Linked DNA regions of Homo sapiens: region 2 is linked to region 1. The links come from fine-mapping of genetic effects on plasma protein levels. Region 1 holds a variant in brackets. A gene starts in the other region. All regions are shown on their reverse strands.

What was found. PIP is the posterior inclusion probability: the model's chance that the variant is causal. The UK Biobank Pharma Proteomics Project read protein levels with antibody pairs (Olink). The fine-mapping took linkage between variants from a reference panel, not from the people measured, so its PIPs are less certain.
Region 2: COX5B starts here. The variant in region 1 is fine-mapped to the plasma level of the COX5B protein (UK Biobank, PIP above 0.99).

What each region holds. Positions count from the first base shown.
Region 1 is chr4:47,646,937-47,652,317 of GRCh38, reverse strand. All of the region lies in intron 13 of CORIN (corin, serine peptidase), which reads left to right. Among named protein-coding and RNA genes, the nearest start is that of MIR8053, 3.0 kb to the left of the region's middle. RefSeq lists an enhancer at 590-1,133. The variant G/A (reference allele first, on the strand shown) is at 3,172.
Region 2 is chr2:97,641,119-97,646,499 of GRCh38, reverse strand. It overlaps COX5B (cytochrome c oxidase subunit 5B), which reads right to left and starts at 438. Exons shown (of 4, transcript NM_001862.3): 1 at 311-438. The coding sequence starts at 413. RefSeq lists enhancers at 334-513, 694-743, 546-1,480.

The sequences.
Region 1 (5,381 bases):
ACAAGCAATCAACTGAAATCCTGTCAGCTCCTATAAATATGGACTAATGCATCTTCTGGAAAACTTCAGCTGTCAGAATGATGGTACAATGTCTGGGGTAATTTTGTTATGGAGGAATGTACAGTGTTTTTAGAAGCTACTGTTGTTTGCTTGTTTGTGGTTTTTTGTTTTGTAAAGAAATAAATCAAAATTCATTGAATATACCTTATATAAGTGATTTATTGAGAATGTATTAGATTTGTTCACTGAACTATGACTTTGATGGGTCATGGTATTTGAGATGCAATTTAAAATAGATTATCTTAGATGGTTCAAAGAGGTTGCATGATACTTTGTTGGGGTGGCTAGACCTAAATTTGTTGTAGGGGACTAAATATTTGAGAAATACAAAAGCTTAGTTAAAAACAAAACAAAACAACTTTACCAAGACTAAAAGTTCTGAGTTCTAGAACATATTCTGCAAAAAATAAACTTAAAGTACTATCATATTGGTATAGGGTTTAAACGACCCTAAAATATCAGGTTTCTAGTTAAGTAATTGGTTTTCACCAGTATTTTAATCACACAATTAAAGGCACATCAAAATAATAGAATATATTGTCTAATCTCTATCAAAAATTAAAAATAATTGACAGCACTATTGAGAGCTCTAGTTAAGGAAAGTTAAAAGTGGGTAAGAAATAATACATTTGGAGTTCAATTAATTGCTCCAGCAGTACTAATTTATGAGAAGTTTTCCAAAGTGACTAACAATAGAAAACTTTACATACTTCGTTCCCCTTTGATACTTCTGCATGCATTTGAATGGGCTTGTTCAGTGATTTGGGAGGACACACCACTTCAAATCAAATAAGGAAGTCAGGTTGATGAAGGCTCAACAGAGGACTAATAGGAAGTCATCTGTTTCCATTTGCCTCCTTGCTGTTTGTCTTTCTGTTTTCGTATGTGCATAGGCACACCATCTGGTAATGCAAGCACCAGCTCCAGCAAAGCTGGGTTTCACCCCAAGCTTCTTGCCTTTCTGACTTATTCTGTCCGTTGTGTTATTAAGTGTTTGAGCTTTACTGAATAATTGGACAATTAACTATTCATTGTCATGAATCTGCAGCTCCCTCAGAATTTCTAACAAGGTTATTGAGTTTCCACTCAAAACAATACTTATTTAACTCAGTTATGAAATAAATATTGTGTGAGAAATTACTTCTTGTTTCTTTGGCACTTTTGTAATGGAGAAACATGATAACCAAAGCACTTAACTTATAAATACACTTTTAAAATATATGCATTAGAATTTAGCAATCAGTAATACTGTTCTTAAATGTCTCCAGCTCTTGTGGTAGATTTTTGCTGTTGAGGCTGCTTTGATTGTGTAATTGCCAATGTAAACAAGAGTTGAAAATGTCAGTACTAGAAAAGTTTTCAGCAAGTGTTGGGATGAATTGTGCAAATCCGATATGGGAAGGAAGTCTAAGAGACAGGGGAATGCTGAGCAGAATCTGCACTGTGTCAGTACAGAAGTACTGCATTGTCTTAAGGATGCTTAAGATGTCAATTACTGTATGCTTAAGTAATTGAGCATACATGATATAGATGGAGCTGCCTGTAAAACTAGCAACTTGATAAATGAGTTTATTTTCAACGTAACATTTTCCAAGCATTGATAGCCATGCAGTGGAGCATGAGGGAAAGACATGGGAAAATAAATGATCAAGAATGACATCAAAGAAAGGAGAGCTAAGGAAAACAACAAAGGGATTGTATGTTTCAGCTGTTCTATCACTCTATAGATTTGAGTGTGTGAGGCTGAGGTTATCTCTTGCTAGGCTTTACCTCCACGATTTGGGTCAGCTACAAGAGCAGGTGGTACCTGGGCTGTGATGCAAGCAAGCAGCAACTCCCAGTGGAGCAGTCACATGAAAATATAGCTACAACAGGTGCTTTATATCGACTGTCAAAATAAAATCCTTTATTACATGAACACAGAATCAAAATTACTAATTGATCACTATTCTAAGTAAAATGGTATACATCATATGGAGAAAAGATTGACAGCAATGCAAATGTCTGAGTGTCATTAAGTGACTTTCTGTTTATCTTCAGATGACCAAAAATCAGTTCTTCACCTATCTTTGGTCTCCTCTTGATCTTAAATAAAATAAAACCTTTAAATATAACCTGAGCCATTTCTTCAAGTCAGAATCCCCTTAGGTTGTATTAGAAGATCTGACTCTGATATTTACGGGTTTTACAGCTTGATTTCAAAGAGTTTCCAAAAGGCATGTTTTCTTTTTGGATTCTTGGATAGCATTTCTATGAGTTATCTCACAGAAGGGCTTAACTGGCTTTCTTAACACTCCAAATACTACCAGTCTCTATGCTTTTGTGTCTCTTTGTCTGGGGAGGAGACCACTCTTTGCTCTGTAGCTAGCAGAAGAGTGAGAGTCATTATGTCCATAGCTTTGGCATATCCACAAATGTGCTTTCAGGAGGAATTTTCAGGATTGATTTCTCATCACTCAGTAGGGTTTAATTTTCCATGTTAAGGGGGAAATTTTCTCCTTCCCTTTAAATACTTGGTTAACTGTTTCATCGTCTTCTGTGGTGTCTTGGGAAGGCAGGCTGGAATGGCAGAGTGTCCTGCGTAGACTTAGACTTGAATTTACATCCTTACTTAGCCTTAGAGGCTGTGTGACGTTTGGCCAGTCAGTTTACTTCTCTGGGTAAGATGCAGAGAACACCCACATTATCTCTCACAGCTTGGAATGCTTATAACATGCCCTGTTCATCCTCAGAAGCTAATAACTGGGAACTCACCTGCTGTGGTGGTGGAAAATCAGGAGGCGATTCCTTTCAAAGGCTGCCCCAGCCATCTCCCTTGAGGGAAGGAGTCCTGTCTAGCATAGTCTTGTTTCTGACAGCTGTTTATGGCAAAAGAGAGTGGGCTGGTCTGTCAGGCTAAAGCATGGGCTGGGGGAGGTCTCTGGCTCACATAGTAAACTCAGGTAGATGGATGGTGTCTTTTCCTGGAGATAGTGTTGGTTTTGGGTTGGATGTTCTCTCTTTTTAGGATTAGAGCCATGCAGTTTAAAGTCCCATCCATTCCTTCATCCTGCCTCTTTCACGGGAGACTGGGCCACCCATATGTGAAGAGCATGCCATAACAATGGCACT[G/A]CTAAGAGTGGGAAGTGACTCAGGAATTGGGTAGGCTGCTGCGACTTTCCAGCTGGATGGTGGCTGGATGGCCTGTGCTGGTATGGCTGCCCTGATAATCAGGCCTAGACCACAGTGGGAAGCAGGTCCTCTGTTCCAGCTGCTATAGCAGGTGCAGAGGCAGAGCCCTTTGCAGCCATGCTTTGAGGGAAGGGGCTTTGTTGTCCAGGATCCTGCATGCTGTAGAAGGCTCTTCACACCTGTTAGGCCTGTACTCTGGCTGCTACAGCTCCTTATAGGTCACATCCACAGCCACTTCCTGGGGCAGACACTGGTCCAGGATGGCTGGATCCAGACTGTTCCAGCCTTTGTCAGCTCAATAATGCAGTATTACCTTGTCTCCTTCCTCCTTGTGAGCGGCTCCACTCCAAAGGGTGAGAATTTAAAAATTTCATGCAGCTCAACTCAAGAGGATGAGTGGACCTACTTACTCTATAGCTGCATAGCTAAGAGATTCTTACAGAACAAAAAGCATCTGCTTTGAGGTGATTTGCTGACTTTATTTGTAATGACAACTGTTTTTATAGAGAAACAAGGTATTCCATTTGGGGGTGGGGGGGTACTGCCTCTGTCAGGGCAGCCTGTTTCACAGAGTTTTTGTGAAAATGAGAGATAGAGTAAGCAAAAAACCCAGATGAATGCTTAGCACACTTAGTGTGACCAGTCAACCAGATCTGCCTGGGACTGATGGGGATCTTTTGGAACAAGGGACACTTTGTGCTCAAATCAATTAAATCCCTGGCAAACTGGGGTGAGTTGGTGACTTTTTTGGAACACTGTATCCTCAATTATTGGTTGTTGCTATTGTCTCTGTGCTGGAGAGGTTATTATTCTGACATCAACAATTATTTGGTTTCATAACCTACAGGTGCATTAAACAGCCCATCCCATCCATGCCTGTTTTTAATTTTTGATGGAATCATATCCTTTTCCTTTTAGAATATACATTTAAAACATAATTGCACCAAAATGTCACTTTACAAAGAAAGTGGTTTCTTCTTAAAATAATACTATCTCCCATGTAACTAATATCTCTCTCTTTTTATCCTACTTCTTTTGTGCTCACTGTAACTCCACAAAGGAGGTATTATGCTATGCAAACTTTTATGAGAAAAGAGAAGACATGGAGAGGTGAAAAGTGAATGCTTATGGAGTATTCCTTTAATGTTTATAGCAACCCTATGAAGCAGGCATTATTATTTGTATTTAAGATGTATGGAAACCAAAGTTTGGAGAAGTTAAGTAACTTACCCAAGCTCACACAGCTAGTGAGATTTGGAACTAGGATTCAAATCCAGTTGTCTGACTCTAAAGCTGTGCTTCCACTGCTCCTACCCCTTACGCATACTTCATGTTCGCATCTTACAAAGGACTGCAACTGATGACTTGTACCTGGATCCCATCCAGATCTTTCTCCGTAGAGCTGTGATGTGGAGGGATTCAATTTCTCTAAATGTTAGTTTCCTCACTTATAAAATGGTGAGCATAATACTGACATTATAGTGTTATTTTAAGAATTAAAGCTAATATCTAGAATGTGGATACATAGTGGATAATACATGTTATCTCATTATCATCATTATTATTATTATTATTTGTGAGGATGCACTTTAGGCGGCCTTCTGTCCCAGATGATCTATTTCTGTGGTATTTCATCATCTCATTCCAAATGTCGAAGTTCTTCCTTGTAGTCTTAAGAAGAATGGGCCTTGGGAATCGTCAGGAAAAACTCATGCTATTTTATTTCATTCTCTATTAGCAAGTGGTATGTTTTGTGAGCAGAGGAGCAGCCCTGGAGAAGGGTCAGCACCATGCATGGAGTGTTGAGTCCTCTTTCTTGATGTCTTTTGCTCTCTGGTAGAATGAGCAGACTGTACCATTTGGCGGGAGCTGGGTCACAGAGGACAGGCTTCAGGCTCTTTCTCAAATCTCAAGAGACTCTTATTGTCAGAACTTTTCAGATGCTGTCTGGATCCTCTACTAGCTGAAAACTCTAAATAATGTCCCTGTGAGTTCTTGGAATGGATGTCCCTGGGCCTAAGACCCCCCCGGATTATCAGCCAGTGAAAGACTCTCACTATTTATTTCCTATATCTTTGGATGATGAAACACACTAAATCTAATTTTAGCTTATAGTAAGCATTTTGGGTCACTTATTTTTATAATTGTTT
Region 2 (5,381 bases), not on the chromosome of region 1:
CCACTCTGCTTGAGGTGGGCGCAGGTTTGAAGGGAGGCCGGACCCCTCCCCATCCCGGTGGCAGCCCCGGTCCCTCCCAAGGTCACCCGGCACCTCCGTTTAGGATACTTTCGCAGCGGAGTGAGTTCGGGGAGCGGCAGGAGCAGCGGTCCAGAATTACAGGGAGATGCCTGCAGAGCCTGAGGCACTGGGGACCGTAAAGCGGCCACTGGGACCTCGAGAAGCTGCACGAGCCGCGCCGCTTTGCCGCCCTGGGACCACCCTGGGAGGGCAACACTCTGGTCCCTGGCACGCCCGGAGACCCGAGTACCTCCAGATGCCATGGAGCGCATCGCGGCCGCGCCACTGGGGCCGCGAGCCCTCAGGGCCTGCGCGGCCAGCGTTCCAGCTCCGCGAAGTAACCTTGAAGCCATTGCGTCCGCGACTAGCAGCAAAACTTCCGGGAACAAGCTGCAGAGACAGGAGGGACTTCCGGGGGCGGGCTTCTTTCTCCTCTCGGTCAGCTTTCGGCTTCCTCCCAGCCCTCGAGCCCGCCCACTCCCAAGACTGTGGCGGGGGCGGAAATTGCGCATGCCCAGCTCTGCCTCTTTCTGCACCGCGTAGTGGCTGAGGCTTGGGGGCGGGGTTGCCTTTAATAACGCTGGGAGGTGGGAAAGTCTTTTTGGTCCCTGGAGTTGAGCGGCTGAACCACATTGGAGTTCCTGTGGGTCTGGCCCCGTAGTCGTGTTCAGCAAACGTGGAGGCTGCTAATGGAAGCTATTAGGTCCCCGTCTGTGAAGAGACTTACTGAACCCCAAATGATTTGAATTTAGAAGTGGGCTCCTAAAGATCACTGCGTTCCTTACTAGGCTGGTTAGTGGCAGGGCTGGTTCTGGCAGTGCGTGGGCCGTCGCGAGCGTGTCGCATTGGACGGGACCTACCTGCAGTCCTGGCCCAGTTTCGTGTTAGAGTTGTACTGTGTGTGGGAGGCGCGGAGGTCCCGGCCTGGGGAGGAGGACAGGGCCGGGGGCGGGACCCCCTACCAGGACCAAGGCCCTGGTGATGTGAAGGAAGTGGCCACTCTTTTTCGAGGCTACTAAGGGAGGAGGAGCAGGAAGGGGAGTTGATAATAGGAAATGGAGTTAGAGCCTGCTGTGACTGGAGTTCCTTGTTTGAAACGGAAAACATATTCCGTCCATGGCTTCCCGTTGCCCATAGGCTAAGATGTGCAAATTTCTTAGGGTGAGCTTTAGTCAGTATAGCCCTGTGACAGGCTAGCTGCATGCGGTATCTGAGTTTCCCTACCAGATAGAAAAATCCCCTTAGAGTGGGAATTAATGCTCATCATTGAATCTTCAATGCCTTGCAGAGGTCTGGTATATAGTAGGATCCAGTAATTTTAGTAAATTTACTACTTGGATAGAGTATACAAAACCAGTTTATAGGGCTTTTCCTGGCCCAGTGAGGTCAATTGGAGGCAACATGGGGAGAGTTGAAGGCTTAGGTGCTCCCGCCTGTCTCATGCAGGCTACGGTATTTTCAAAAGGACGTGGTGGAGCGTTGCTTCACAGGAGCACGTCTGGTCTTCCTGGGTGCCCCCTCCACCAATTAAAAAAAAAAAAAAAAAAACCCTGTATTCTAAGGCCAAAATTTCTTTAAAGGTGGTTTTTGCTTTGAATGGCTTCACTGTTACTCCCTTCTCCCTCACCTCCACTGCAACCCCTCCAAGTTGAATTGGGCGAAAATTCTGAGGATCTGTAGTTAATTTGCAACTGTGGTTAAGGTCTTAGGCAGGAGAAAAAAGCATTGGTCTGGAAAGTAGCCCCACCAGCTAGTTCAGCTACTTTTTATCCTTTGGGCCGCCATTTCTACATCAGTAAAACTGTCGTTCAACTAGGTTAGTATTTCCCAAAGTGTATTGCATGGCATCCAAGTCTCAAGACATGATCTCAAGAAAAAGGACTTGGTCAAGACAGGGAGGGCCTGCATTTGATGACCACCCTTTTGGAGATGGACACTAGCATAATAAAGGCTCTGATTAGGCTTGCAGTAAAGACCTCTTATTTAATTTACCTGCAGTTTAAGCCAGAGTTTCCCTGTCTTAATTGACCACAAAATCCTTTCTGAGGAACACCTACTAACTTGCCCCTCAGCAAACCAGTGAGGTATTCAGCTCTGATATGTTATGATTCCCTGCTGCCTGACCAGAAGTGGTTTACTCCAGGCTATAAAATGGAAATTGAGTTTAGGCTTCTCACTCTCATAGTAGGCTTGCCTAATAATAGGAAATTTTCGCAGGCCCTCATCCAACTCAGGAAAACCTCAGCCTCACTCTGGGATTATTTAGATTGTGTGAGTGAGCTCCAAGGTCAGGTCCAGGCTCCCCAGATGTCCCCGCATCCCTTGCTGCTTCCAGCTCCCACCACTGTCAACTCACACCCAGTCCCTCAGGTCTCCTTTGGAAACAGTTGGCTTGGGGAACAGTCTGCCACCTCTGCTCTATCATTGTCTTTGCCAGCACAATAAACTTATTTTTATAGGATAATTTTCAGTTGTCAAAATAAATGTACATTATAAGTTGAACAGCACAGATATATAAGGAACAAGCTAGCAGTTTGGTGCTTATCCTTTTTTTCCTTTCCCTATGACAGAGTTTCTCAAGCTCAGCACAACTGACATCTTGGGTTGATAATTCTTTGAGGGAGGTTGTGCATTGTAGGATTTAACCCTATGTCATTAGCACCTCCCTGACATGATAACCAAAAATATCTTCAGCCATTGCCACATGCCCCCTGGATTTGCAAAATTCCCATTGAGCATCACTGCATATATGAATATAAAATATAAAAACATAACTACTATACAAAGTTTTAGTTAGTTGCTTCTTTCATTAAAAAATATTTTGTAGGCTGGGTGCGGTGGCTCACACCTGTAATCCTAGCACTTTGGGAGGCTGAGGCAGGCAGATCACCTGAGGTCAGGAGTTCAAAACCAGCTTGGCCGACATGGCGAAACCCTGTCTCTACTAAAAATACAAAAATTAGCTGGGAGCGGTGGTGGGCGCCTGTAATCCCAGCTACGTGGGAGACCGAGGCAGGAGAATCACTTGCACCCGGGAGGCAGAGGTTGCAGTGAGCCAAGATCACATCATTGCACTCCAGCCTGGGCGACAGAGCAAGACTCCGGCTCAAAAAATATATATATTTTGTAGATGTCCCTTCAGATCAATACATCTAGATCTTAACTTACGTGATGGCTGCAGAATATTCCCTACTGTGAATGTACGTTAATGTGCCCAGCCATTCTCCCATGATGAATATTCCAAAGGCTTCTAGTTTTTTGCCTCTCATACAATGCTGCAGTATATTCTCATACAATATCTGAGAGTATATTCTTATAGAAGCAAATATTTCATTTTCAGTAGAAGCTTATGCTCATTAACAAATGGCCATAAAATGTTTTTTTAAAAGTTGATAATTTTAAAAATAATATCAGCAAGCTTTTACCATTAAAATCTCCAAGGGGTTTAGTCCTTTTGATATTTTTCTGTACATGTTTTTGTCTATATCCACCTTTGTCTATTTTTTAAAAAAATTTTTCTAAAATAAGTCATATTTATTTATTGTATTTTAAAGCTCAAAATGTATTTAAACATTTTATTAATTTAGGCTCTTTTAAATAATATCTTATTTGATATGTTCAGTTAATTACTAGTTGGTAAGTTTAGATATAAAGTTTTTAAATGGCAGAGGTCTATTTCATAAATTATGAAGCCTGAGGTTGTCAAACCCTAATTTGATCAATGCACAATTTATACATGTATCAAAATATTATATCGTATGTCATACATATGTGCAATTTTTATATATTGATTAAAAATGAAAATTTAAAAATTATTGAAATAAGTTGTCATTTAAATAAAGGTTTTTTTGATTAGTTTGAATTTAGTAAAAATGCTTTAAATAAAATCACCTGAATATTTTTTATGCACAGTACCTATTTCATTTCCCTGAGTTTAAAATTAAATCAGCCATAGGTGCCAGACATTGAGGCTCTACTTGTCTTTTTCCAAAACCATCCATCATGGTCATTAGCATTTTGGTCTTCAAATCTAAAGACTGGTAGAAATTGATCAGTACTGAAGGGATTTACATGTCGATGAGCCAGGTGAGATGGTAGCAGATCCTAGATTTCAGTGAAGAAAGGGCAGAAATTATCAAAGAATGGAATGATGTATTCAAATATCATATAAAAATACTATCAGATGTGGGAGCAGAAATGAAAGTAGACTTGGGGCCCCAAAAAATCAAACATGAATTTGCCACGTGGGTGTTGTTTAATAATCAATGACAAAAGCCAGGCATGGTGGCTCACACCTGTGATTCCAGCACTTTGGGAGGCCAAGGCGGGCAGATCACTGGAGGTCAGGAGTCTGAGACCAGCCTGGCCAACATGGTGAAACTCTGCCTCTACTAAAAATACAAAATCAGCCGGGCCTGGTGGCACATGCCTGTAATCTGAACAACTCGGGAGGCTGAGACAGGAGAATCCCTTGAACCTGGGAGGCAGAGGTTGTGGTGAGCCGAGATCATGCCATTGCACTCCAGCCTGGATGACAGAGGGTGACTCCCTCTCTAAATAAATAAATAAATAAATAAATAAATAAATAAATAAATGACAAGATAAACCAGCACTAACCACAACTAGAGGGTGTTTGTAGAGGGCTATTTACAGAGATTAGAAATTGAGTTGATGTAAACAATGGTGGAAGGGTAAATCCTTTCATTGGTCCTCTGTACTGCAGAAACCTAATAAGGGAGGGGATTTAAGGATCCTATAATACATTGGCCTCCAAAAAGCAAGGCTTATTATTTATAGAGGCATTTGGAATTTGCTAGACTGTGGAAATCTCAGAGAATAACATCTGTTATCCAGAAAGCCCAGGGGACACCCAACTCCTGAGCCAAATGCATGAATTTTCCTGCAAGCACTGTTCAGACCAGTTATAGAATATTCAGGTGAGTATGTCCTTTAATTTTTTTTTTGTTTATAAAATTGTGAACTTCTGGACGGAAAGTCCTGGATATTTTACAGTTTTATCTATAGCATGACATCTAGAATTTAATTGGAAACATTTATTGTAGAATATGAAAAGTTCTGTGTTGTCTGTAACTTCAGGTTGCATGCAGCCTTGGTCGTCTGCAAAGTTTTCAAAGTGCTCAAAGGCACTTTTTTATTTTCCTAATATTCCACTGAAGTTTTTATTTATGTAATGGTATTTTTAATTTACAAAATCTATTTTGTTGTTTGAATGTTCTTTTCAAAGTCTCTTGTTATTTTTTGATATTTTTACTCTATAAAATAGAAAACATGACTTTGTGAAGGTTATACATTTTTATTTA